Linked DNA regions of Homo sapiens. The protein of the gene in region 4 interacts with the protein of the main gene of each other region in a pairwise test. Each region holds a gene or a part of one and is shown on either strand. Other genes may lie near its edges.

Region 1 (3,500 bases), on a different chromosome or scaffold from region 4:
CAAGTCCATTTTATTTGAAATTTTCCACATGCCACACATGTACATGAAAATTCCCATCCAGAATGTAGTTTGCTACAGTGAACACCAATGTCAGGAGCAGGCATCACCGTGAGACGCCACGGGGGCAGGTCAGCGGGACGGGGACAGGGAGGTTGGTCATCGAAAGGCAGGTGATGCATGTCGTGTCATTTAGCACCTGGTCATGAGATACGGCGAGACCCCCAGGTCCAGGGAAAGGTCTCCCCTTAAAACCACGTGGAGCTCTGCTGTCTCTGGGCAGTCTCACGTGGACAGACAATGCTCAGAAGGTGGCGAAGGGGCTGGAGGGAGATACCACCGACGGCTGCAGGGGAGGGGCACGCACACACACAGGCACGCACATGCTTGCCCATGAACACCCCCCGGGCACACACACACCCTTGCACACTCCCCACCCTCCCTCCACCCCAGACACATCAGCACAGCGGTCCAGGCTCTGGCTCACTCCCCGGGAGGCTTCTGTGGCCAGGGTTCCCATGGCGGGTCTGGTGGCAACAGCTTGGAGAAAAGCCTCCCGGGACCAACCCTCATTCCCAGGTCCACTGATCTGGGGTAGGAGTAGCCAAGTGTTCTGACAGGCGGTTTTCCCGTAAACCGACCCCTTCAGCGTTTCTGCTTTTTGTTGTTTGTTTTCTGAGACAGGGTATTGCTCCGTGGCCCAGAGTGGAGGGCAATGGTGCGATCTTGGCTCACTGCAACATCCAACTCCTGGGCTCAAGCAATCCTCCTGCCTCAGCCTCCTGAGTAGCTGGGACCACAGGCACATGTACAATGCCCAGCTAACTTTTTTTTTTATTTTATGTAGCGATACAGTCTCACTATGTTGCCCAGGCTGGTCTCGAACTCCTGGGCTCAAGCGATCCTCCTGCCCCAGCCTCCCAAAGTGCTGGGATGACAGGCGTGAACCACCACGCCCGGCCCCTCCCATGTTTCTCAAAGGAGCTTTAGAGAGCAGAGGAGCCCGAGTCACTGCCACCACTGGGTTCCTCAGTGTCTGTGGGGTTTGTGTTCATCATGCCCAGTAGATCTAGAAACTTCTTTTGTTTTTTTTTTTTTTGAGACGGAGTCTCACTCTGTCGCCCAGGCTGGAATGCAGTGGTGCGATCTCAGCTCACTGCAAGCTCCGCCTCCCAGGTTCATGCCATTCTCCTGCCTCAGCCTCCTGAGTGGCTGGGACCACAGGCGCCCGCCACCACACCCGACTACTTTTTTGTATTTTTAGTAGAGACGGGGTTTCACTGTGTTAGCCAGGACGGTCTCGATCTCCTGACCTCATGATCCGCCTGCCTCAGCCTCCTAAAGTGCTGGGATTACAGGCGTGAGCCACTGCGCCCGGCCAGATCTAGAAACTTCTAACTTGAATCCCACACCCCCAAGTGCAAATGAGACCCATGACCATCACAAAGACCCCCCAGCGTCGTGGTCAAGGCTACCAGGAACTGGCAGCAGCGCTCTGCCCACGTCCACAGGAAGTGGCCGACGTCTCCTCTGCCTTTGGTTTAGTGGCCCCACACTTCATCACCTCACTTTGTCCATGAATTTCACACGTTTTCTTACAAGAGCTCTGTAATGCGCCAGGCACGGTGGCTCACACCTGTTATCCTAGCACTTTGGGAGGCCGAGGCAGGAGAATCACTTGAGGTCAGGAGTTCAAGGCCAGCCTGACCAACATGGTGCAACCCCATCTCTGCAAAAATACAAAAATTAGCCGGTCATGATGGCAGGTGCCTGTAATCCCAGCTACTCAGGAGGCTGATGTGGGAGAATCGCTTGAACCTGTGAGGTGGAGGTTGTAGTGAGTGAGCTGAGATCGTGCCACTGCACTCCAGCCTGGGGGACAAAGCAAGACTCCCTCTCAAAAAAAAAAAAAAGGCTCTGTAATTTTCAGATCCTAAAAGGAGCAGATAACAGGGGAAGAGGAGGTGGGAGGCTGCCACAGCGCTGCCTGCTGGGGGATCAAGGTCCCCGCATCCAGGCCTCCAGCACCCTCCATCCCTGCAGGAGCACTGCTGGCACCGCCAAGGCCGGAGCACTGGTCTGGAGCTTCATTGGCCGGCAGGGGCCCAGCCCTCAGCTGTTGGAGCCCTACGGCTCTAGGTCTGGCCCCTCCACAAGCCCTCCAGGCCCACGCCTGAGCCCAGCCCCGGTCCCCTGGGTCCAACGGCCTGTGGCTCTGGGTCCGGACCCAGGGTGTGGTTGAGGGAGGGCGCTGCTGAGCTGGCAGGCAACCCTTGTGTGTTTGCAGCGCAAGAGGAGCTCAGCCCGTCCTGGCTGCCGTCCTGGGTCGAAGCAGCAAGTGTCTTCCCGCCCTGTGCACAGACAGGTCCCAGGAGGGCCTCTTGGAGAAGAAACCGCTCAGGCCCATGTCCTGGCAGGGCCTCTGGGGGCAGCAGATGGCAAGGATAGAGCCCGCCCCCTCTGCTGCAGAAGGAAGCGGCCCTCACCCAGCCCCCCTGGGCTGGACGGGCCGTTGAAAACAAGAAAAGCCTTCCATAGCAGAAAGGAGTACTCAAGGCCCAGAAAGGCAGCTTTGCTCTGGGTCATCAGGCTCAAGTGCCTGCTCTGGGCCACCTTCGGAAGCCTGGTGGAGCCGAGTGTTGCCTGGTGACGTGGAGCAGGAGGCGGGGCGGAGGCTGCGGGACACGGGGCTGCAGGGCCGGGAAGGGGGTCAGGAGAATAAATAGCAGCTAGGTGTGGGGTGAGCTGGGAGCACAGGCAGGAGGGGGCAGCCAGAGAGGTTGGGGCTCTCCCTTTTAAAGAACAAAGGGATACATACCCTTTCCCCTCCTCCCTCCCTCCAACCCCACAGTCTCTCCCTCACATACACACACGGAAGACGTGACTCACACACACATGCACACACAGGGCACAGGTACACGAAGGCACACGTGCACACACAGGGCACAGGTACACGCAGGCACATGTACACACAGGCACACGTGCACGCAGGCACACGCATGCAGGCACATGTGCACACACAGGGCACAGGTACCCGCAGGCACACGTGCACGCAGGCACACGCACGCAGGCACGGGGACAAGTGCTGACCACGCTCCTCCAGCAGGCAGCATATGGTCTGCTGCTTAACAGCCGAGCTCTGCCAATTGGGGACCATTAGGGTGGGTTCTTTTCCCAGCATCAAATGCTGCAGAATATAAATTGCAACTAACGCTGGTGCCAAAATAGCACTTAGAGAAAATAAGCACGTTATTAACATCTGGTGAAGCCCATCTCGGGGGTAGCAGCAGCGGAAATTCTTGCTCTAAGTCAGAGGATGGTTGCAGGGGACACTAAAAATACAAGGTCCACTGTTTCAGGGGTGCTTTCCAAGGCACTGCACCCCAGCCTCAGGAACAGCCCTTCCCCCAGTCCTGTCTATGAGTATAAATTATGCTGCTGGTTAAAACCGCTTGCTCATGAGAACAGGACACCCAGGCGCGATCGTACACACGCTAGGATGC
Region 2 (4,041 bases), on a different chromosome or scaffold from region 4:
ATCTGTCCTTTTCACTGCTGGCACACAGTAGTTGCTCAACAAAAATGTGCGAAGTGAAACTCGAACAGGCGGTCAGGCTCACAGTCCACGCCTCTTCCTACTGTGGTCCCGCTGTGTTTGGACAAATAGTTCCAAATTATAAACTTTAAAACCTGAGAAGTCTCAATAGAAAAAGCAGGGAAGTCTTTCCATTTCCATGATTAATGGAGGACCTTAGCAGAAACGGCTCACCGCGAGGTGTGACGACCGCAGGAGGGCGTCAATCAAGAAAATGCCCCCTTGCCCCGGAGGCGAGTGGAGCCGCACAGAGCCGAGGCCATACGGGCCAGCAGTACGGACTGCTTCAATAGAAAACACGTGCAAAACCAGAGAGCCAGACTGCGCACAGCTGCGACCCTCAAGAGCCAGCAGAAAAGACACGGAGCGGCCCCCACTGGATTGAAGACTGCACAGCCTCTGCCCGGCGCTGTAGGACCCGGGCCTCCCCTTGATTGCTGCTCGCAGCGGCTTCTGCCAGCATCCTCGCGGAAGTGGCTTGAGTCCGAGGCCTCCAAATGAAACCAGGTGGAGCGGCCAAGAGTCCGCAGCACCTGAACTCCAGCCATCCGAATCCCGCCGGGCCGCAGCTAAGGGCCGCCGAGCAGCCCTAGGAACCCAGGGCACTGTCCCGCTCTGAGCTCGGGAAACGGCCGGTGTGACAGCCAGCGCCACTGTTAATCCAGGGAGCGCACCCACCGAGGAGGCGTCTTAGGCCAGCGGCCTCTGCTCCCGCCGAGTCCCGCTGCTCCCCGCCTGGAAACAGCTGCTGCCACCCCGGGCCCAGGCCTGGACGGCGCCCCCGAATTTCGGCAGAGGTGCCTCGGGGCCGCGGACAGGGCCGCTGGAGCCCGCACTCCAGAAGGCGGTCTTCCTCGCGCCTCCCCCGACGGACGCGGCCCAGGGCTTCCCTCGAGGGCGTCCTCGGCCGGGGTGCCTGGAGTCCCCAGGGGCGACAGCCGCGGCGGGGCACCAGGGCGCCAGTTCCCCGGAGCCTGGTAGCAAGCGCGTCCCGGGGGCGGGGAGCTTGGCCGGCGGGGCGGGCCGGGGTGGGGGCGGGCGGCTGCTCTTGGGGCCCCGCGCCATTGGCCGCAGGGCCCGGCGGCAGGAAGGGGCCAGCGAGCGCGGCCCCACCCCGCGGCCGGCGGAGCCTATCGCCGGGAGCGCGGAGCGCGGATAAATGTAGCGCCGCGGCGCGGGCCAGCAGCTCTGCGAGGGGCCGGAGCGCGGCGGAGCCATGCAGTACCCGCACCCCGGGCCGGCGGCGGGCGCCGTGGGGGTGCCGCTGTACGCGCCCACGCCGCTGCTGCAACCCGCACACCCGACGCCCTTTTACATCGAGGACATCCTGGGCCGCGGGCCCGCCGCGCCCACGCCCGCCCCCACGCTGCCGTCCCCCAACTCCTCCTTCACCAGCCTCGTGTCCCCCTACCGGACCCCGGTGTACGAGCCCACGCCGATCCATCCAGCCTTCTCGCACCACTCCGCCGCCGCGCTGGCCGCTGCCTACGGACCCGGCGGCTTCGGGGGCCCTCTGTACCCCTTCCCGCGGACGGTGAACGACTACACGCACGCCCTGCTCCGCCACGACCCCCTGGGTAAGGCGGCCGGGCGAGGGTGGGGGCGAGGAAGCGCCACCCGGCAGGTGGCAGCGCCCGGGAGGCCGAGGGGGCGAAGGGGGCAGGCGGTAGACGGCTGTGGCAAAAGCGATGGAAAAGCAGCTGTCGGGCACGCGCGGGGACGGGAGGCGCGCGGCCGGGGCTGACCGCACCGTGACTCAGATTGGTTTTCCTGCACCTTGCAGGCGTCGGGGCGCGCGGGCCGGCGGTAGACCTCGCGGCGAGGGCAGCCGTGGACCGCGCGTGTTACCCGGGGTGGGGCTCCCTTAGCGGGAGGGACGGGGAAAGGGGCGTCGAGGCGCCCCTGGCCGGCCCCCGTGGGGCAGGGATCGCAGCCGGGCCCGGGTGGCTACGGGGCTGGACCTGGTTCAACAGGCTTGTGCAGTGAAAGAGCCTGACCCTTTCCGTTCATACAGGAAATCTTGAGTTCTCGATAGGAGTAAATCTGGTTTCAGAAGCTGTTAAGTGTTTTCCTGGCTGCATGAAGCAGACCCTTCCCCCGGAGTAGTGCACGCTGCTGATTATTTTATCGACATCCTCAATACAGACAAATTCAGGAAACACTCGACTTCTGATAGCCGGGATCCGTTTTTCTGATATTGTTCATTTCCTCTGTGTGGGATGTGACTTTATGGCAGCTAAAATAACCAGTTGCTTCCTATTTTTTTTCGAGGCTGTTTTGCACCAGTCTGAAGCCTGACGCAAGCAAAATCTCGAAAAAACAATGCTAGCTTTCAAAGCGTTGAGGTGCAGGCCTGCAGACGGACGGACGGACCGACCGACACTACTTTGGGAGTAGGAAGCAGCAGCTCCTGGTCGCCAGTTAGGAAGGGAAGCAGGGACACATAGGGCATATATTCCAGAACTTCGGGGCTTGTCCCCTCAATGTGCGGCCTAACAAATAAGCCGCCCGTGGTCCGCGCTGTGGGTGACCCTTGGCGCCTTCGAGGTCTGGAGCCCTAGGGTAAATAAGGAAACGGGGCGCCTCTAGAGTTTTAAATGAACTCTGTTATTGGAAGCTTCAGTAGGGACCCTGAAAACAATTAACGTCTTAATTAGCATTTTAATGTCTCCATTATTACGGCGCGGGCTCTAGCTCAGCCCTTTACCTTACCTTCTCACCGTTAACAGGGGAGGGGGATTGTATTTTTAGTTCATCTTTTTATGTTTTTGAGTTGTTATCCTGTCTGTCTGATTCCAGCCTCGAGGGTTTGATGATGCGGCCCGAGCCTGGCTGTGGTCGCCTGTCGGGGCTGGAGCGGGACCCTCAGCCGGGCCGGGCCTGGGGGCTAACGTTTTCACAGTGCGCCCTGAGTTTCCTTGGGTTACTGCTGGGACCGCGCAGGAGGAAGCAAAGAGTTTTTCGAGCTAGACCAACAGGAAACACATTGACGGAAATGTTGCCATAGCCCATGGGGTGGCTTTAACTGGCCGCCCCCGCGGGCTGGGTGTGAAATCAGAGGAGGCCGCGGCTCCCCCGGCCAGGATTGGAGGCTCCTCGCGCAACCTAATGCGGGTGTCCGGGCCCGAGCGCTTCCCGCGCAGCCAGGCCTTGTCGGTGCAGCAGCCCCGCTCCTCCCCAACACGCACACACCCGGTGTTCGCAAGTGCGGCTCACCAAGGGAGATCCAAGGGGGCAAAAAGTTATGTATAAATCCGAGAGCCACTGGGGAAAGAGGGTCGTGGTATTGTAAGCCCAGCCGGTAGTGCCCATTCTTTTTGGGGTTAAAGGTATGTCTGGATTTAGTTCTAGGTGTGACGGCTGTGTGTCTGTCTGTGTGTGTACAAGGCTGTGTGCATCTGCGGTGTCAGTGTGTGACTTTGGGTATGTTTGTGTGTCGGTGGGAACGTGTTAGGTCCACGTGCCGGTGGGTGTATGTGAATGTGTCTGGTTGGGTGGCCTCCTGGCCTACCTTTGTCATCCCTGGGGCCCGACAGCTCTGGGGTCTGGCCAGGCCGCTCCAGGGCAGTGGGTGAGCGCCGCTCTTCCCGCTCGCAGGCAAACCTCTACTCTGGAGCCCCTTCTTGCAGAGGCCTCTGCATAAAAGGAAAGGCGGCCAGGTGAGATTCTCCAACGACCAGACCATCGAGCTGGAGAAGAAATTCGAGACGCAGAAATATCTCTCTCCGCCCGAGAGGAAGCGTCTGGCCAAGATGCTGCAGCTCAGCGAGAGACAGGTGAGCTCGCGGGGGGCCTGGGGCCGCCTCCGGGGAAGGGAAGGCTTCTGGGGTAGGGGTCGCCGGGCCACCGAGAGAGAGGCGAGGAGCCACCCTGCCCTCTGGCACGTCCCGACGCGGGCTCGTTGCAAGTTTTCTTTCTCTCTTTCCTGTAGGTCAAAACCTGGTTTCAGAATCGACGCGCTAAATGGAGGAGACTAAAACAGGT
Region 3 (3,500 bases), on a different chromosome or scaffold from region 4:
CATACACAGAGAGTCAAGGTCTTGGGAAAAGGTTTTACATATATATATGTATGTGTTTTATATACATATAAATATATTTATATATATTAAAGTGTGTATATATACGTGTGTGTGTGTGTGTGTGTGTGTGTGTATATATATATATATGTGTATATATATATTTCTTTTTTTTTTTTTGAGACAGGATTTCACTCCTGTCACCCAGGCTGGAATGCAATGGTGTCATCTTGGCTAACTACAACCTCTGCCTCCCAGGCTCATGCGATCCTCCTGCTGTAGCCTCCCGAGTAGCTGGGACTACAGGCACATGCCTCCCCTCCGGCTAATTTTTGTATTTTCTGTAGAGACAGGGTCTCACCATGTTGCCTAAGCTGATCTCGAACTCCTGAGCTAAACTGATCCACCCGCCTCGGCCTCCCAAAATACTAGGATTACAGGAGTGAGCCATTGCGCCTGGCCTTCTCTAGCATTTGGTTTTCCTTGCAAGAATCTGGACAGTTGTATTCAGCTGGTAGTTTGGAAATTTACTTTTTAAACTAAATGTATTTTAATAAAATGTGTTTAAAACAAACTGATTTGTCATTAAGCTCACCATAATGAGATTTTTGCCTATTAATAAATCATACATAAAAACCAGTAAGGAAAGCAATATAAAGTGCACTACTGTCTCAAGAGCCATTCTCAATACTCATTCAGATTTTACCAAAATGAAAAGTCCAACAAATAGCTTCCCCTTCCCTAATCTGATACAAATCAAAGAAACAGATTGAAGGAAGAACCATTTCTTTAAGCACTTTCTTTGCAGAAATATACTCCTACACAGGGATTCTCTCCCGAGTTCAAATTCTAGGTAAACAATTCCGTAATACAAAATTCTTTTGTATTACCTCCTGAGGTCCCCTGGATTTAAGTCTCTTACTAGTCATGTTCCATCTACTCTCTGGTTCCTATATCCTACAGATATTTACGGTCACGTTTTCTTTCTTTTCACCTATATTATAATATGTGGAAGCAAAAAGGCAGACAATATGATTTTCTTTATCAAAGTATAAAAATTCATCAATATTTAATTGATCAATTAATTTTAATTCAATATTAATATTATTGAATATAAAACCTTAAATATTAAATATATAACATTCAATACCATTTACAGAGTATCAAATGTACAAATTACTCAAAACAGTGAAAATTATCACTGTGATAGTTACATAATGAATGGGGGAAATCAGAGACTATAATATATAGAACTTACGTAATTTCCATAGCCTTGAACACTATTCATTTTTAATTCCTACTATTTACCTTAAAATGAAGTAAAACTGCTGCTACTTCTCTCATTCTGGAGATTTCACCTCTTCTTTGAGCACTGGTAAACTCCTGAATCAGCTGGCATTCTAAATCATGGTATTTACCTAAAAATAAAGTCATTCAGCTACACTGAGGCATACAAGGCATCCACGTTATTTAAGAGTATCTACATTATTTACAAATATAATGACTATGAATATAGCTTTCTTTTGAAGGAATTACAAAAACAAATGAGATTATAGGCCGTGAACCCAGCCCCTGTAATATACTGTGGCATATAAATCTATATTTTCAAGACAAAAAACTTCCAAACTGGCAAAATTACTGAGCTTTCCAGGGTCTGACTGTCATATGCCATTGTTACTTAAACCAGTAGCTGACTGGAAAAAATCCTCCAGATGCTATTTCTGATAGCAACACACATGAAAAATCCTACACATGGAAAGGGTGAAGAGGACTACAGAACTCTTTACTAGAGTTCTGATGCCTCTACCTAGAACAATAGTGGACTGATGACTGAACACCAAATCTCATCCTGATAATATGCAGTATTTATATTTTTTTCATTTTCTTTTTTTTTTTTTTTTCGAGACAGAGTTTCTCTGTGTCACCCAGTCAAAGTGCAGTGGCGCGATCTCGGCTCACTGCAACCTCCACCTGCTGGGTTCAAGCGATTCTCCTGCCTCAGCCTCCTGAGTAGCTAGGATTATAGACACCCATTACCACACCCAGCTAATTTTTGTATTTTTAATAGAGACGGGGTTTCACTATGTTGGCCAAGCTGGTCTCGAACTCCTGACCTCAGGTGATCCACCCGCCTCGGCCTCCCAAAGTGCTGGGATTACAGGTGCGAACCACCATGTCCGGCCCTATTCACTATATTCTTGAGGCTAGTATGGTTCTTAACGAACACCTGAACTTCAGACCAATCTATTGTGATCAAAAATATTCCCAGGAAGTCTAACTAGCTGTGTCATCCTTATTCTAAGACTTTTTGGGAATATAGATGAATCTTTGAATCTTCTATGCAGTGGCCTACTCTAAATAGTGACCCCAGCTACCACAGAACCTGCAAATTTAGTGGTCTTTTCAAAAACCTAGAATGATCTAACCTAAACTAAAATCCAAGACTGGCAAGAACCAAACTAATCATGTAAGGAGTTAAATAGATACTGAAATGCTTATATAATCTTAAAAAAAAAAAGAGAGAATCTTATTCAGAGATAGATGTATGGAAAGCACAGGATTTCCAAAATGCACTATTAAATTAAAAATGCAAGGTATAAAGCTATTTATATAGTATGGTAGCAATTATTTAAAAATAAATGAGGATAGAAGTACATATAAATATCTATACATACACATACATATGTACACACACACATATATAGAATTTATGTCTTATGCTTGTATATCCATAGATTATTCTGCAAGAATATCCAAAAAAACTGGTAATGGTTGTTTTGAGGGAAGAGAAATCAAACTCAGGGATCTTCTATGCAGTAGCCTACTAGGGTAGGAAGATGACATTGTTCCTGCTTTTTCTCCTTTTGCTGTTTTATTTTTACACAAGTAGTTTTTTTACTTATTAAAAAAAAGGTAAAATAAATACATCACTTACTTGCAATTTTGGATTTAACTTCTGAAAATCTGAAAGACAAAAACCAACCATGAGGTTTGTTAGTTGTGATAAACATCCTATGGCAATGTAAGATGCTAACCAAATGGGAAACTGGGTGCAGGAGATACGAGAACCATCTGTACTATCTTTGCAACTTTTCTGTAAATCCAAAACCATTATAAAGTTAAAAGGTTATTGTAAAAAGAAAAAAGACAAAATCAGAGGAGAGAATTCTGATAGGAAGCATGCCAGGTGATAAAACTTAATGTAGGTAGGTAGCTGGTTCTCATTTAGGAAATTCACATTGAAAATCAATTCTCTTTTTAAAGAATCAACTGCTCTGCATAAGACACTAACAACCCAGCCAGTCCCAAAACTGACTTACTGTTCTTACTTTTATTTGCTGGCATTTTAAATACACTTGATTATTTGTCTCCCTCCCCATTCCCATGGTTGGTATTTTTAAAAATAAAGTTCCATCATTATTATTCAAAAGAAAAAGATGATCAAATAATATATTATATGATGATATATTAATGACAAATGATAAGACCCAGCAATGTGCCTA
Region 4 (2,425 bases):
GTGAAAGTTATGTTCCTGGGACTAAAAAGAGAAGGGGCTGAAGGCCTTCAAGAACAGCTCCCTCTGTGCCCGGGGCCAACGTGCCTGGGCTGTGGACCCCTGCTCGGCCGGGGTTGCCATGTTGAGGGGAGTGTCATGGGCAGCAGTGGCTTCCCCAGGCCCCACTTGCACCCACAAGCCACAAGCCTGTCTTCCTGGGCTCCCACCATGGCCTCTCCAACAGATCCATCACCAGCTTCCTGTTTCCAAACTGAGTCCTCCGAATATTCCTGGGTGTACCCCCAACCTCACCTTTGCCCACGCACTTGCCCTGGCCTGGCCACTGCTGCCCAGCCATGGACCTGCTCAACCCTCCGCCCCCAAGAAGCCTGCTCTCCCCATTGCAGCCCTGCTGAGCCCCTTCTTGCCCCTGCCACATCCTCCTGCACCCCTGTGTCCTCTGTCCAGGTGTGAATGTGTCTCCTTGGCAGTCTGGGAGCTCCTAGCAACTGGGGCCAGGCCTCTTCTCCAACTATAGCTGAAGCCTCGGCTGAGTTGGGGAGCTCCACATCCAGGCTCCTTCCCTTGTTCCTTTGCCTCCTCTGAACTGAGCACTCGGACACTGGAGCAGGAGAAAAAGAGAACGGGACCCCAGCACACCAAGGAGAACAGAACGCACTCCTTTATTCCCTGGGAGACGACAGGCTCCCTCTCGGGGCTGGGGGACGCTTGGTTCTGGGCCCTAGCAAGGTGGGGACAGTGCTGGGGGCACTGCTGGCTCCACTGGCAGGGCAGGTCCGAAGGGGCTCCTGGCCCTTCCTCAAAGCTTCTCCAGGTAGGAACCAGGGACGAAGCCACGCTGCCCGTTCCTCTCCACAGTCCACCAGCCATCCTCCCCTTCCAGGATCACCTCCAGGATGTCTCCCGCGGACAGGTCCAGCTCATCTGGGTTCTGGCCAAGAGATTGAAAGCGCATGACGTTGGAAGGGCCTGCAGGGAAGGGCCTGCAGGGAGGGGCCTGGCGTTCCCCCACCCAGCAGTAAATGCGGCATGTCTCCCAGGGTGGGCAGGGGCAGCCCCTTGGGGACACAGGATGGGGGTAACCCAACGGACCGGGCCTCCCATCCCCCTCAGTTTGTCATCATAGTTCTCCCCCAACCTGGGTTTCTTCCCAGCCTCACCTCCCCTCTCCCATTCTGGAGACGCAGTGACTGGAGCATGTCAGGGGTCACGGGTGCTCATCATACCCCAAGCCCAGGGCACACTCATGCCTAAGCTTACCACAAGCCTCCCCTTTGCGGTCCCCAGCCCCAGCTAGCCACTGCCATCCAAGTACCCCATCACTCTCCTGGCCTGGCTTCCCTGCCTCCCCGAGCCCTGGCCTCATCAGTGGAGTCCACACCCAGCCTGCCTGGCTATGTGGGGGTGCTTGGCCTCAGTCCAGGTGGATGTGAGGTCTGGCTATGCATTCTTCCCCTCAAGCAGGGAGCAGAAAGGACTCTCATAGCTGCCCTGTGGCTGCCTTGGTTCATCCTCACCCTATGGACATCAGAAAATCAATCCTGGCACGATAGCAAGACTCATTCTGGCCACAGTTTTCCACACCCATGGCCACGAAGGACAGGGCCCTGACCCAAAGGCACAGAGCCTGGCCCTCAAGCTATGACCTGCAGGCAGCTCCAGGCTCTGCCAGCTCCCCGCACGTGTGCACCACTCAGCGCCCAGCCTGTGTGGACGGCATAGGTACATGTGCTCCACGTGTGTGCTGTGTACAGGCCCGGGCAGACACAGGCCTGCTGCACACCAGCTTCCAGTCAGTACATGCACACTGAGGCCCCGCAAGCCCTGGGTGCTGTTCTCAGAGCTCACATCCAAGCACACTCCCAGGTACCCTTGCTAGTGTGGACACACTCGGGCACACGTGCCCTCCTGAGGAGGAGAGGATGCTCGAAGATGAGTGAAACCATGAGGAGAGATGAGGACGCAAGGCACTGGATGGGAGAGGGAGCTCTCAGGTGCAGGGGAGGTGGCACAGGTGGGTTTGGGGTATAGAGGCCTCACCTGCGCTGTATAATCGTAGAGCGCCCGGTACTCCTGGGCTGGTGAGGCCGGGTTTCCCTGTATCTCCTGCACTGCGATGGCTGTGTAGACACCCTCATTCCGCTCGGGGGTGGGGGTCAGGGTCTCTGTGGACGCTAAGAGCAGGGTGAGACATAGACCCCTCCCCTTCTGGGGACACTGGCCCCTGGAAGTCCTACTAGAATGGGGTTTCTCCATGCTGGGCCCTGCCTCTTCCTTCTGCTGTCCACACTTGCTGTTGGGGGACACACACTTCCTCTTGAGGGCCTCAGTGGCCCCATCTGTGCCATGTGGGAGACCTCTCCTCCCCCCCAGGATCAGTGTGTTTGGGGGTCCCCTCCTGACCCCCTTTACCAGCAGAAGCTGC
Region 5 (3,811 bases), on a different chromosome or scaffold from region 4:
ACGCAAGGTTAATTTCCTGTCAATTCTAGCAACAATATGACTTTCCTATCTTTAACAGTAGTCCCCGCAAACGCTTCAGGGAGGTCTGCAGCCTGCACATTTTGAAATATGTTTAAGTTGTCTTATATTTGTTATCTGGGGCACATAGGGTGGGCCTGGTGGCATGGGGCGCCCCTGGCAGATTTGAACTAATCTTAGGTGAGTGTGCGGCGCCCCCGCGTGGCGCCTGGCGCAACAACATGCTGGGTTCTGCGTGGGTCCTGGGCCAGGCGCCCACTACGTCTCCACTTCTCTCTCTCCCTTGGCCTATTGGTGCCCTCCGGCCGCACTCCCGCTCTTCCGCTGACCCATCCCTTAACAGCAACAGCCCTGCCCCTTACCCTGTCTTAGGTGCTCAGTGGGCACGCAGGATCCCGGGTCATCAGCCCCGACATGAGCGTGCACACACACACACACACACCCCTCCACGCCTCGCAGCTCTTACAGCTCCACCCAACACAAAAGATCCCCAGGTTATTTTATTGCTGTACTCAGAGGTCAGTTAATGCCCCCGGCCGCCTCACCCTCCCCCCGGCGGTGGCTGAGTCCTCTGCTAGGGTTCGCGAACGGCAGCGGGTCCGAGGGTCACCTCTGCATCTCGCCGCCGGAGGCGCCCCCGCCTCCCCTCCCCGCCGCCGGGCCAGCCGGGGTCCGAGGCCCGCAGCCCCCGGCTGGGAAGGCAGGTCTGGAGAGGCCGCTCCGGGTCTGGAGGGAGGGGAGGCTCTCCGGAAAGGGGTGGCGAGAGACCCCCGCCACGACTCCCAAGCTTCTTCGCGCGCGCTGGAGGGGACACGGTGGGCGCCTAATTCTCGGCGTAGCAGTAGGTCCCATAGGCTGCCTGTTGGGGCCTGGGGAAGCCGAAACTGCGCACTCCGGGATCCGGGAGCCCCCCGCAGCGCGGCCTCGGCGTGGTGATTGGGAAGCGCACACTGCCGTCAGCCAGCCAGCCGCCGTCGCACTGGTCTAGCCCCGAAAACTTCCAGGCGGCGTAGAGGTGCCCAACCTTGGCCACCACGGCGCCGCGTCGCCGGCACGCCGCGTGGGCTTCAGACAGCGTCAGCCGCCCGGGCACGAAGAACACTTGGCCTGGGGACCACAGCGGGTCACCGACCGAGGGCAGGGTGGGCGGAGAGGGGCGGCTGACACCCAGGAGGCGGAGTTGGGGTGCGGGACCGCAGAGGTGCTGGATCGAGCTTGGGTAAGAGGAGTTGGGGGATCGAGGCAAAAGTGCAGGGAGGGTTTGGAGAGGTGAGCTGGAGCCTGGGCGGGCGGGCGGGCTGATGGGGGGGCGGTGCCTTGGAGGGACCCGGAGACCCTGCCCTGATCTCAAGCTGAGGTCCACTCCTCGTCCCCCACATTTTTCAGACCCCTCCCCAAGACCCTGCCTTCGTCCCGCGCCTCACCCGCCAGCGCGGAGGTGAAGCAGAAGGCGTCGTAGCGGTCGCGCATCCGGTCGCGGGGTCCGTAGCTGCGGATCCCGGGCCGGCCTCGGCCGCCGCACGGGGCGCGTGCGGTGAGCACAGGGTAGCGCACGGAGCCCTCGAGCAGCCAGCCCGCGTTACACCAGTCCAGACCCTCGGTCCAAGCTGGCGGGAGACGGCGGAGGTCGGGGATAAGAGGCGTCATAGGCAGGAGCCAGACTGAGCTCGCCTGGCGCCCTCTCTCGGGCCCCTGAGACAGCTCCGCGGGGCTTGGGAAGTGCTGGGTTCGGCCGCTCACCCTGGTAGAGCTGGGAGTAGGTGGCCAGGCGTCCGTCCTGCTCCTCGCACGCCTGCTTCGCCTCGTAGTAATTGAACTGGTACCGGCCCCGGCTGGGTTGGTACGGAAACACCACACCTAGGGGGTGGCGGGGATCCTGGGGAGGGCCAGCGGATGGGAGCGGAGGGGGAGGAAGGGCGGCGCGGCCTGGGAGAGGGAGCTGGGGTCCCCAGGGGTGCGGAGGAGATACTGGGAAGGAGCCCTGGGAGACCCAGGCGAGGCGGACCCGCTGCTACACAGGAATGGGGCGGGAGCGGAAGGGCCTCACCCTCCAAGCTCAAGGTCAGCGCCACGCTCTCGTCCTCGATGCCGTTGATGAGCTCGCAGCGGTACCGGCCCTCGTCCTCCAGGCGCACGCCCGCGATGACCAGGGAGGCGTCTAGTCGATGCCCCCTCCGCATCCTGGCGCGCCCTCCCAGGGGCCCATACCCCCGGGCGTGCAGTCCGTTGGTGATGAGGATCAGCGTTTCCCGGAGCTCCCCAGGCTCCACCTTGCTCCAGCGCACCTTGTAGCTGGGAGGCGTGGTGCCCAGGACGCAGGGCAGCGTGGCCGTGGCCCCACGATGAGAGTGAATGACCTCGTGGATGGGGGGCAGGAGGTAGTGGGGGCCCGGGTGGGATGCTGGGCAGAGGGGGCCACAGTGGCAGGAACCCCCAATCCTCACTGCCCCAAGTGCCCATCAGACCCTGCTCCCCAAATGCTTTCTCCAGAGCCCCCCAACCCTCTCCTCCATTGCCTTCTCAGCAATGACTTTCAGTCCCTGGGTACCTGCAACAACTGCCCTTTCCCCTTTCCCCACCCTTGCAGTCTCCCCAAGCCTCCCCCAGATTCTGGCCTGGGCTGGGGTCTTACCTGGGTCTCCTTGGGCTTTGTGGAAGATGGTGAAGGCCCAAAGAAGGAAGCGGCAGAGTGTGGGGAGGGTGAGCCAGCCTGGCATGATGGGGGGTCAGCCCGGCACCGTCTGCAGGGCACAAAGAGTGGGCAGTTCTTAGGACTGGGGCAAAAGGGTGGGGAAGAGCAGGGTTGTGGGTGAACTCCCATCAGAGATCCTAGAAGGGACTGTCCAGCTGGAAGCCACTGGGGCAGAGAAAAGGGGTTGGTGACAAAATGAAGGTGATGAGGGGAAGAAGGCAGTAGCAATCCCCTTCCTCTCCCTCTCTTCCTCTGTCACATCCTCTCAGCCTGCAGGTACTAATTTAGCATCTTCTCTACCTGTCCCCCTCATCACAAGTGCTACTTCCCAAGCTTGCCATCTGGACTGCCAGCTCGTCTCTATCCTCTCCCAACACCCATTCTCCATCTTGAAGCCAGAGTCAAAATGATCTTATCACTCTCCTGCTTTTTTATTTTATTTATTTATTTATTTATTTATTTATTTATTTATTTATTTTTTTGAGACAGAGTGTTGCTCCATGGTCCAGGCTGGAGTCCCGTGGCATGATCATGGCTCACTGCAGCCCCTAACTTCCAGCTCCAGGTGATCCTCCCATTTCAGCCTCCTGAGTAGCTGGAACTACAGACATGTGCCACCACACCCAGCTAATTGTTTCTTTTTAAGTTTTTAGTAGAGACAAGGTCATGCTGTGTTGACAAGGCTGGTGCTGGGATTACAGCAGGCGTGAGCCACCGTGCCTGGCCTTGTCACTCTCCTGCTTGAAAGTGACTCCCAGTTGCCCTGAGGATAAAATCCAATCTCATAACCACAGCTTCCAAGGCTGTCTATAATCCAGTTGCTCCCTGCACCTCCAGCATGGTCCCCGCCTCGCCTCTTAACCACTTTGGCCTCTGCACTGTTCCCCTGACATGCTGGATTTCTGGCAGTTTCCCACACAGTCCAAGTTTGCATTCATTTCCTTTCCTTTGTGCCTGCATTGGTCGCACAGGCCTCACCTCCTTTGGGAAACCTTTACCCACCCCCAGTTTGCCACACTGTAGTGCACTGTGATCTGCTGGACTGCGGACCTTTTTTTTTTTGAGACAGGGTTTTACTCTCTCGCCCAGACTGGAGTGCAG
Region 6 (3,500 bases), on a different chromosome or scaffold from region 4:
CTGGTGTGCATTCTAGGTGCCATCCCCACTGAAGCTGGAACCCTTCCCGAGTTCCATCTGGACTAGCTGAGACTCTGCACATAGCTGGCTCTTGCTAGTTTTCTCTCCCAACAGTCTGGATCCTTCAACAGGATTTCTACTTCACTGGCTTAGCCTTGATTCAACTTAAGAGTGTCCCTGCTAAGAGACGCTGCAACCTGATAGGCTGTGTATGTTTCCACTGTCTAGGAATTTTTGCCATGTCCAATCCTACCAGATTGGACCATTAGTATATTAATATCAACCTGGTTTGGACCAGAATTTGAAGCTTATGTATAAGAGACCACACATATATCAATTCTTAGGGAACACAAGTTTCATAAAATAATTTATATTACCTGGTAAAGTCACGAGATAGTTCTGAAGAGAAGATCCAATTTGCTACGGCAGCACAATCAACTATTTGTGTACGAATCATCTTATCCACTAGTACAGCAATCATCTACAATGAGAGAATTATTCAAGTAAATCACACACACACATACACACACATATATATGTGCCACCACACTGCTGCTATAAAAGTAAAATAGGAGGGCTATAAAATTTAGTTTTGGTGGCTATGGAATTGATTGATCAATCTGACCATTAGGTCTTTTTTTTGGGAGACAGAGTTGCTCTGTCACCTAGGCGGGAGTGGAGTGGCACGATCTCAGCTCACTGCAACCTCCACCTCCTAGGTTCAAGCAATTCTCCTGCCTCAACCTCCTGAGCAGCTCAGATTACAGGTGTGCACCACCATGCCTGGCTAATTTTTGTAATTTTAGTATAGACGGGGTTTCACTGTATTGCCTAGGCTGGTCTCGAACTCCTGGCTTCAAGTGATCCATCCATCTCGGCCTCCCAAAGTGCTAGGATTACAGGTAAGAGCCACCACGCCTGGCCTGATCATTAGGTCTTAAGATTTATTCTCCCCTTTGCTTTGCTCTAGCACTACAAGAAACAGGTTGACTAAACAAAAACTCTGAATGGTAACAGTTAAAATTTGAAAAAACTGGCCAGGCGCGGTGGCTCACACCTGTAATCTAGCACACTTTGGGAGGCCGAGGTGGGCAGATCACCTGAGGTCAGGAGTTCCAGACCAGCCTGGCCAACATGGTGAAACCCCATCTCTACTAAAAATACAAAAATCAGCCAGGTGTGGTGGTGGACGCCTGTAATCCCAGCTACTCGGGAGGCTGAGGCAGGGGAATCACTTGAACCCGGGAGGCGGAGGTTGCAGTGAGCCAAGATTGCGCCACTGCACTCCAGCCTGGGTGACAGAGTGAGACTCTGTCTCCAAAAAAAAATTTAAATTTCAGGTACTAATACGTATTCAAAAAAATACATAATTTCAATGAACCCCAGAAGTTAAATGTAAAACAATGTTTTATCATTACACACTCACTGTTTTATGAAATTTATTTAAATGTTTCTTTGTCATACACAATATATATCAAGGTTTGAGAAATCTGGAGCTTGCATTTAGAAACTGGATAGACTAGATAAACCTTTTCCTGAACATTTAAAACATATTGAGATATTATAGTTCAAAACCAAATCATAATAATGCTTACTCTTTCAAGAATGAATGAAACATCATTACTCCCATAGCACTGAAAGAATTAGATCTAAAAACCATTATCTAGGCAGAGTCAAATTTCATGTTTTACAAACAAAACAATGGCAATTAACGGCCTTATTTTTATACCCATACAATCAGAGCTTCAACATGTCTAATTAAATAATTTTTACCTGTGGATGGTTCCTCCAGACCTCAAACATAACTCTTAGCACATGTAACTTTCCTTCATCACTTTCAGCTAGGGTTTTGAAGACTTCATGAAACCTTTTGATAATGATGGGAAAAAAATACCATATATACTTATTCATTAAACATTTTAGTGTTTTCAAAGCCTTTTCAATGTTACTCAATTTATAATGCAATATATAAATGCAAAATAACTAAGTATTAACCATTAAGGATGCAAAAAGTGTGATCACAGATTGATAGTTTTTAAGGAAGCTGTCACAAAATCTCAAGACATTTACAATATACTACCGTTAGCCCAGGGCTACAGTTTAAAAGAATAGGTAAGGACTAAGGAACTGTCTTCAAACATGGTGAAATATTCAAACTGCATCTTCTGTGGGAACCCTGCAAGTAATATAAAGCCTTGGAGACAGAGATGGGGTGAGATGTCCAGTTTCTCTGCTTGGCAGAAGGAAAATCTATGTGCTCTTTCTTCCTTTGGACCCTGTCTGACAAGTTAAAAATACCTGTCTTCAGATGCCAACCTTTGCGTGACTCCCAACAGTGTAGCTGATTCTAATTTCTTCTTACATTGCTTTGGAAAGATATTTAGCGTGGGAACTTCCAACTGCATATGACTGTCCCAAAAACCTAGGTTTTTCACTAGTTTCTTTAAATGTCTATATGAAAAAAAGCACTTACCATGTACATATGCCAACTGTACAAACAGACTGACGGAAGCCTTAGGATATGGATTTCAGCTACCACAAACCCAAACCCACTGTGTCCAATTATACACTATTAAGATCTTCATATTCAACAATCTTAGGTAAAAATTACCATACCACTGGTGTTCACCAAGCAAAATTCCAAACTCTCAAGCAAGGCTCTGTACTCATACATACTTTGCAAGAGCACTGAAGGAGTGGCTGAATGATTTGGCTGCCAAGTGTAGCAGAGTCTGTACAAAGACTTCTATTTTCAATGGGTTAAAACTGAATCCTTCATCTGAAAAATATTTTATAGTAAAACAGAAAAATGTAAGCACAGCAATTCCTTGGTGCCTTACCTCAAATGCTAAATAGATGGTTGCTCACATCTATACACAGATATTTGTGTAATGTTTTTTGGTTCTAATAAACAATAAAAGACCGTCACTGATTTCAAACACTGAAAATATGAAACCACTTGTAATTTTAAGTCTTAGTTTTATGTGACTGTCTTAATTCTATCATCCATTCCTTGAAAAAAAAAAATCACACAGGTTTCCTTATTCATAGCCTCTATTATATTAATACCAAAAAAAAAAAAAAAAAACACTTAAGCTTATGTCTTAAGATGTCTGACAACATCTGAATTTAATGCCATCATTTTGGCTTATTCTTTCTAAACTCATTTTCTCTAATATCATAATACAAATTTCTTAGAGATATCCAAACAAAATCCCAGTAATAAATACCCAAAGGCCACTAATATCTTATTTTGATTCAGTAGTTTTTCTATGTGCATATCCATTTATTGATTCAGGCAACTGTATAAATTATTTTGTCAATTTTCCCACTCTTGCCCAGAAAAACTCCTAGGATTCTGGTTGGAATTACATGGTATATAACTGAGTAAATGTTAAACATTATTATTCTAATAGCTTAACTTGGAGAAAACATCCAACTTTATAACACACCAAGTCTTTCTATTCAGGAACTTCTCTATGGTGAAAGCAGGGGTTAAA
Region 7 (3,500 bases), on a different chromosome or scaffold from region 4:
CCTCCACACGCACCTCTGCCGCTTCTGCTGCTGTTGTTGGCACTTCTGCTGCAGCTGCTGGTGGCGCTGGGCAGCAGCTGCTAGGAGCTCCTCAGCCTTCCTGTGCTCTTCCTGAAACAGCTGCCTGGGGGGCCCAGTAGGGGGTGGTCAGCACCGGCCACTCCCTCCTCCCACCCTCTTCCCCTCCACATCTTACACTGTGGCTGCAGCCTCCTGGCTGCGGAGAAAGAGTCCCTCATCAAGGGTGGAGGGGCCCTCAGCCCCACACAGGGAGCACAGCTGATGCTTCACGTCTTCCAGTGTCGCCTTGACCAGCTTCTCTGCAGCACAAAGGGGCAGGTGAGCACATGAAGGCACGTGAGGTCAGATATGGGCCATCCACCTTCCCTGGTCTCACCTTCCTTGAGCAGCTGCTCCTTGCTGCTGTCCAGGGCACAAATCTCCTTTGCCAGCCGCTCTGGCATCTGAGGGGCAGAAAAGAGGCCTGTCCACTCCTCTTGGCTTTCCCCCATGCCTCAAAGAAGGCTATCTGGATCTTGTTTCATACTTACTCACTATGCCTCACTTCCAACAACTCTGCCCCTCTGTGCACACCAGCTACAGTACAGCCTCAGGGCCATGGCACTGGCCATTCCCTCCCTGTGCACTTCTGTCATCCCACATCTCTGCGGTACTGCAGTGGGGATGCTCATGGATTGTTATTTACAACAGATAAACCTGCAAGCACTGTGAGTCTTGGCTGTTTTCTGGAGGATCAGGTACCGGTTTAGCTCTGCAGCTCCTCCCCACTCCCCTCTGTCCTGGTGTGACCTCCTCACTGAGCCCTTCCTTCCTGACACTCACTGTCTATTTTCTTGTTCAGTGCCTAGGATCCTCCTGGGGGACAAACACGGGCTGCTTATCCTCGTTGTCTCCTTTGTGCCCGTGATGGTCCCAGACACATCCACGGACAGTGATGGAAGACTTGACCTTGGTCTCATCAGAGATCCCCCTGACCACTGAGCAGCAGGGTCACAAGGAGGTGACAAGGGACTGGATTCAGGCAATGTCGATCTTAGCACCACCAGGGCTTGCTTGGCGACTGGTTGTGGCAGGTGAGAGGAAGAAGTGACCGTTTGGGCCTGGTGCTGCTAGGGAAGATGTGGAAGGGGGAGGAGTGGCTTTGAGGGACTCACGTGGAAGTCCCAGAGGTCCTTGTGCTGGCCCATCAGATCTTCCAGCTGTTCCTCGAATGCCAACCTGGGAACCAACCACAGGCATGAGGGGATATGGGCTGAAATCACCACCTTCACAGCCTGTCCAAGTCTGTGGTTCTTCAGGCAGATTTTGGGGTGCTTTGCCCATGGTCTCTGCTCCACTGGGAACATCTTCACCACCTTGAATCTCCATGGCTCAGTGTAGCCAGCTTTTCTAACCCCCATCTTTGACATTATATCCCAACTACTGGCCATCCAAACCCCCTGCCTCAGATGCTAAGGTTTACCTCAGCTGTCTCTGTTTGTTCTTCTCTTCTTCAATCTGCAAGTTCAGGGCAGAAATTCTCTCCTTGCACTCCTGCAACATGGTGTGCTTCCTGGGAGAGGCGAGGCAGCCCTCAGCCATGTTCTCTTAAGCCCCAGGAGGGCACTGGGCTGGGGCTTCTGCCTCCCTCTATTGAGGCTATTTTTTCCCTCTACATTAAGGTCCTTCTCTGTAACATGTGGTAAGTAGGGAGTGACATGACCATTTGCCCCCTGGAAGTATTGTTGTCAGGTTAAGAGAGATTAATGTGGACATGGTTAAGTGAGCAAATGCACACACATCTTAGTATCATCTCGTTTTCCCAAAGAGCTGAAATCTCAGTGTGCCAGGGCCTGGGGCCTCTGGTAACAAATGAGCTAAATCAGGAGGTGGAGAAATGGATGGACAAATCGATGGGTGGATGAAAAGATAATGGATGAATGGAGAGAGAATGGACAAATGGTTGGCTCAATGCCTAAATGAACAGACAGATGAGTGAATAGACATCCAAGGAGTATGACAAAGAGTAAAAGGCAAAAAATAAAAACCAGCTGAAGAAATTTAATTGACAATTTAGCAAATGAATGTCTTGCCATTGAGAGAGTTTCCCTTAACACTACTGCCAGCTGTTGGAGCCGAAGGGGAAAGACATTCTTTGGACTCTCCATTGTTTAGAGGGAAACAATGAGAGCTGTGGGTCTCAGATTCATCTTCCTGCCTCTTTCTGCTCTACCAGAATAAAGAGGTAGTGCAGAGTTAGGCTCAGCTGGAAGCTCTTACCTGTGTGCCTCACTTTCCTTTTCCTGGCAATGCAGCCGGAGGATCCTCAGGGTCTCTGTAGGGAGAGCAACAGGGCCCTATGAGAACCTGTCAAGGTATTGGGTTTTGGCAGGGGGAACACAGCCAGATCATGTCAGGTCTGTGGACACCTGATTGAGCTTTAACATTTACTACATGTCTGGTGGAAGCCACAGGAGAGAGGCAAGCTGGGACAGGTTTCAAAAGGCTTCAGCTGCCATAGGGAGAGTGGGCTTCTGTGGGTTGGCAAAGGCACAAGCCTGGAGACAGGGGAGCGGCAAATACCTTGTTTTTTGCTCAAGATCTCCTTCAGGTGTACTTTCTCTCCATGCACTAGAAAACAGTGACACATTTTGGCATCAGGGACTATGCACTGCACCCTCAGGGATGGGGCTTGCTCACGGTCACATGGGAAGCTGGGCACAGCCTTGGCCCCAACCCAAATGTGAACCCTTGAGGTGAGCCCCTCCCTACCCTCTGGTGCCCACATTCCTTGTAAGCACCAAAGGGCCTTCACATTTACAGAGGGTGGCTGTGAGGGCCCTGGAGGATGCTCGTGCTTTTACATGGGGAGGAGAGAAAAAATACCAACACCCACGAAGTGGGATAAGGGCTATAAAGAAACACATCAAATAGGATGGGGCATGTGACCAGATGGAGGCAGGGTGCCATCTTTAAATGGGATGATTGGGGAATGCCAGTCATCCTGTCTGGGGACATTCTAACTTAGAGCTGATGATGTGAGGAAAGAGGAACCTGTATTATCTGAGGAAGCACAGACAGCGTCTGGCAAAAGCCCTGAGGTGGGAATGAGGTTGGAGGGTGTTTCCTGAACACTCCCACAAGCAGAGAGGAGAGGGGGAGATTGGCAGGACATGAGGCTAGAGAGGGTACAGGACCCTTGGCCATGGCAAGGATGCTGATTATCTGGAATACAGGGTTAGGGGAGGCTTAAGACACTGTGGGGACCTCTGGGTGACCCCCGGCTCTCTTACGCGAGTCCAGTTCCTTCTGCAGGGCCTCACAGATGGTCCGGGCCTCTCCTAGGTCTTTATTGGCTTTCTTTTTTGCTTCACCAAAGAGCAGAAAAACATTGTGTGAGTGCAGCCTCTATTCTCTTCCCAACAGTGACATTTCTCATTTGCCTTCAGGTAAATCTATAGTGGCCTAGATTTTATAGAGTAGGAAACGAGGCTTCCAGC

Evidence for each region.
Region 1: the proteins of PSTPIP1 (region 4) and FBXL18 interact in a two-hybrid assay, tested with the Homo sapiens proteins (one large-scale study listed by BioGRID).
Region 2: the proteins of PSTPIP1 (region 4) and HHEX interact in binary tests that used the Homo sapiens proteins (3 or more experiments, as listed by UniProt).
Region 3: the proteins of PSTPIP1 (region 4) and EXOC5 interact in a two-hybrid assay, tested with the Homo sapiens proteins (one large-scale study listed by BioGRID).
Region 5: the proteins of PSTPIP1 (region 4) and HAPLN2 interact in binary tests that used the Homo sapiens proteins (3 or more experiments, as listed by UniProt).
Region 6: the proteins of PSTPIP1 (region 4) and NCBP1 interact in binary tests that used the Homo sapiens proteins (3 or more experiments, as listed by UniProt).
Region 7: the proteins of PSTPIP1 (region 4) and SYCE1 interact in a two-hybrid assay, tested with the Homo sapiens proteins (one large-scale study listed by BioGRID).

What each region holds. Positions count from the first base shown.
Region 1 is NC_000007.14:5,475,810-5,479,309, forward strand, and holds part of FBXL18 (F-box/LRR-repeat protein 18), read right to left. Parts: 3' UTR 1-3,500. UniProt on the Homo sapiens protein: Substrate-recognition component of the SCF (SKP1-CUL1-F-box protein)-type E3 ubiquitin ligase complex.
Region 2 is NC_000010.11:92,688,714-92,692,754, forward strand, and holds the start of HHEX (hematopoietically-expressed homeobox protein HHEX), read left to right. Parts: upstream 1-1,241; 5' UTR 1,242-1,273; coding exon 1,274-1,634; intron 1,635-3,654; coding exon 3,655-3,833; intron 3,834-3,988; coding exon 3,989-4,039; intron 4,040-4,041. UniProt on the Homo sapiens protein: Recognizes the DNA sequence 5'-ATTAA-3'. Transcriptional repressor. Activator of WNT-mediated transcription in conjunction with CTNNB1.
Region 3 is NC_000014.9:57,234,406-57,237,905, forward strand, and holds part of EXOC5 (exocyst complex component 5), read right to left. Parts: intron 2,962-3,500; coding exon 2,933-2,961; intron 1,416-2,932; coding exon 1,306-1,415; intron 1-1,305. UniProt on the Homo sapiens protein: Component of the exocyst complex involved in the docking of exocytic vesicles with fusion sites on the plasma membrane.
Region 4 is NC_000015.10:77,035,551-77,037,975, reverse strand, and holds the end of PSTPIP1 (proline-serine-threonine phosphatase-interacting protein 1), read right to left. Parts: coding exon 2,413-2,425; intron 2,175-2,412; coding exon 2,041-2,174; intron 932-2,040; coding exon 800-931; 3' UTR 501-799; downstream 1-500. UniProt on the Homo sapiens protein: Involved in regulation of the actin cytoskeleton. May regulate WAS actin-bundling activity. Bridges the interaction between ABL1 and PTPN18 leading to ABL1 dephosphorylation.
Region 5 is NC_000001.11:156,622,415-156,626,225, reverse strand, and holds the end of HAPLN2 (hyaluronan and proteoglycan link protein 2 precursor), read right to left. Parts: intron 2,760-3,811; coding exon of another isoform or gene 2,736-2,759; coding exon 2,651-2,735; intron 2,420-2,650; coding exon 2,066-2,419; coding exon of another isoform or gene 2,062-2,065; exon of another isoform or gene 1,929-2,061; intron 1,876-1,928; coding exon 1,759-1,875; intron 1,626-1,758; coding exon 1,443-1,625; intron 1,126-1,442; coding exon 842-1,125; 3' UTR 501-841; downstream 1-500. UniProt on the Homo sapiens protein: Mediates a firm binding of versican V2 to hyaluronic acid. May play a pivotal role in the formation of the hyaluronan-associated matrix in the central nervous system (CNS) which facilitates neuronal conduction and general structural stabilization.
Region 6 is NC_000009.12:97,661,321-97,664,820, reverse strand, and holds part of NCBP1 (nuclear cap-binding protein subunit 1), read right to left. Parts: intron 2,780-3,500; coding exon 2,677-2,779; intron 1,868-2,676; coding exon 1,774-1,867; intron 482-1,773; coding exon 378-481; intron 1-377. UniProt on the Homo sapiens protein: Component of the cap-binding complex (CBC), which binds cotranscriptionally to the 5'-cap of pre-mRNAs and is involved in various processes such as pre-mRNA splicing, translation regulation, nonsense-mediated mRNA decay, RNA-mediated gene silencing (RNAi) by microRNAs (miRNAs) and mRNA export.
Region 7 is NC_000010.11:133,555,584-133,559,083, forward strand, and holds part of SYCE1 (synaptonemal complex central element protein 1), read right to left. Parts: intron 3,369-3,500; coding exon 3,294-3,368; intron 2,632-3,293; coding exon 2,584-2,631; intron 2,336-2,583; coding exon 2,281-2,335; intron 1,574-2,280; coding exon 1,484-1,573; intron 1,240-1,483; coding exon 1,176-1,239; intron 465-1,175; coding exon 398-464; intron 321-397; coding exon 197-320; intron 125-196; coding exon 14-124; intron 1-13. UniProt on the Homo sapiens protein: Major component of the transverse central element of synaptonemal complexes (SCS), formed between homologous chromosomes during meiotic prophase. Requires SYCP1 in order to be incorporated into the central element.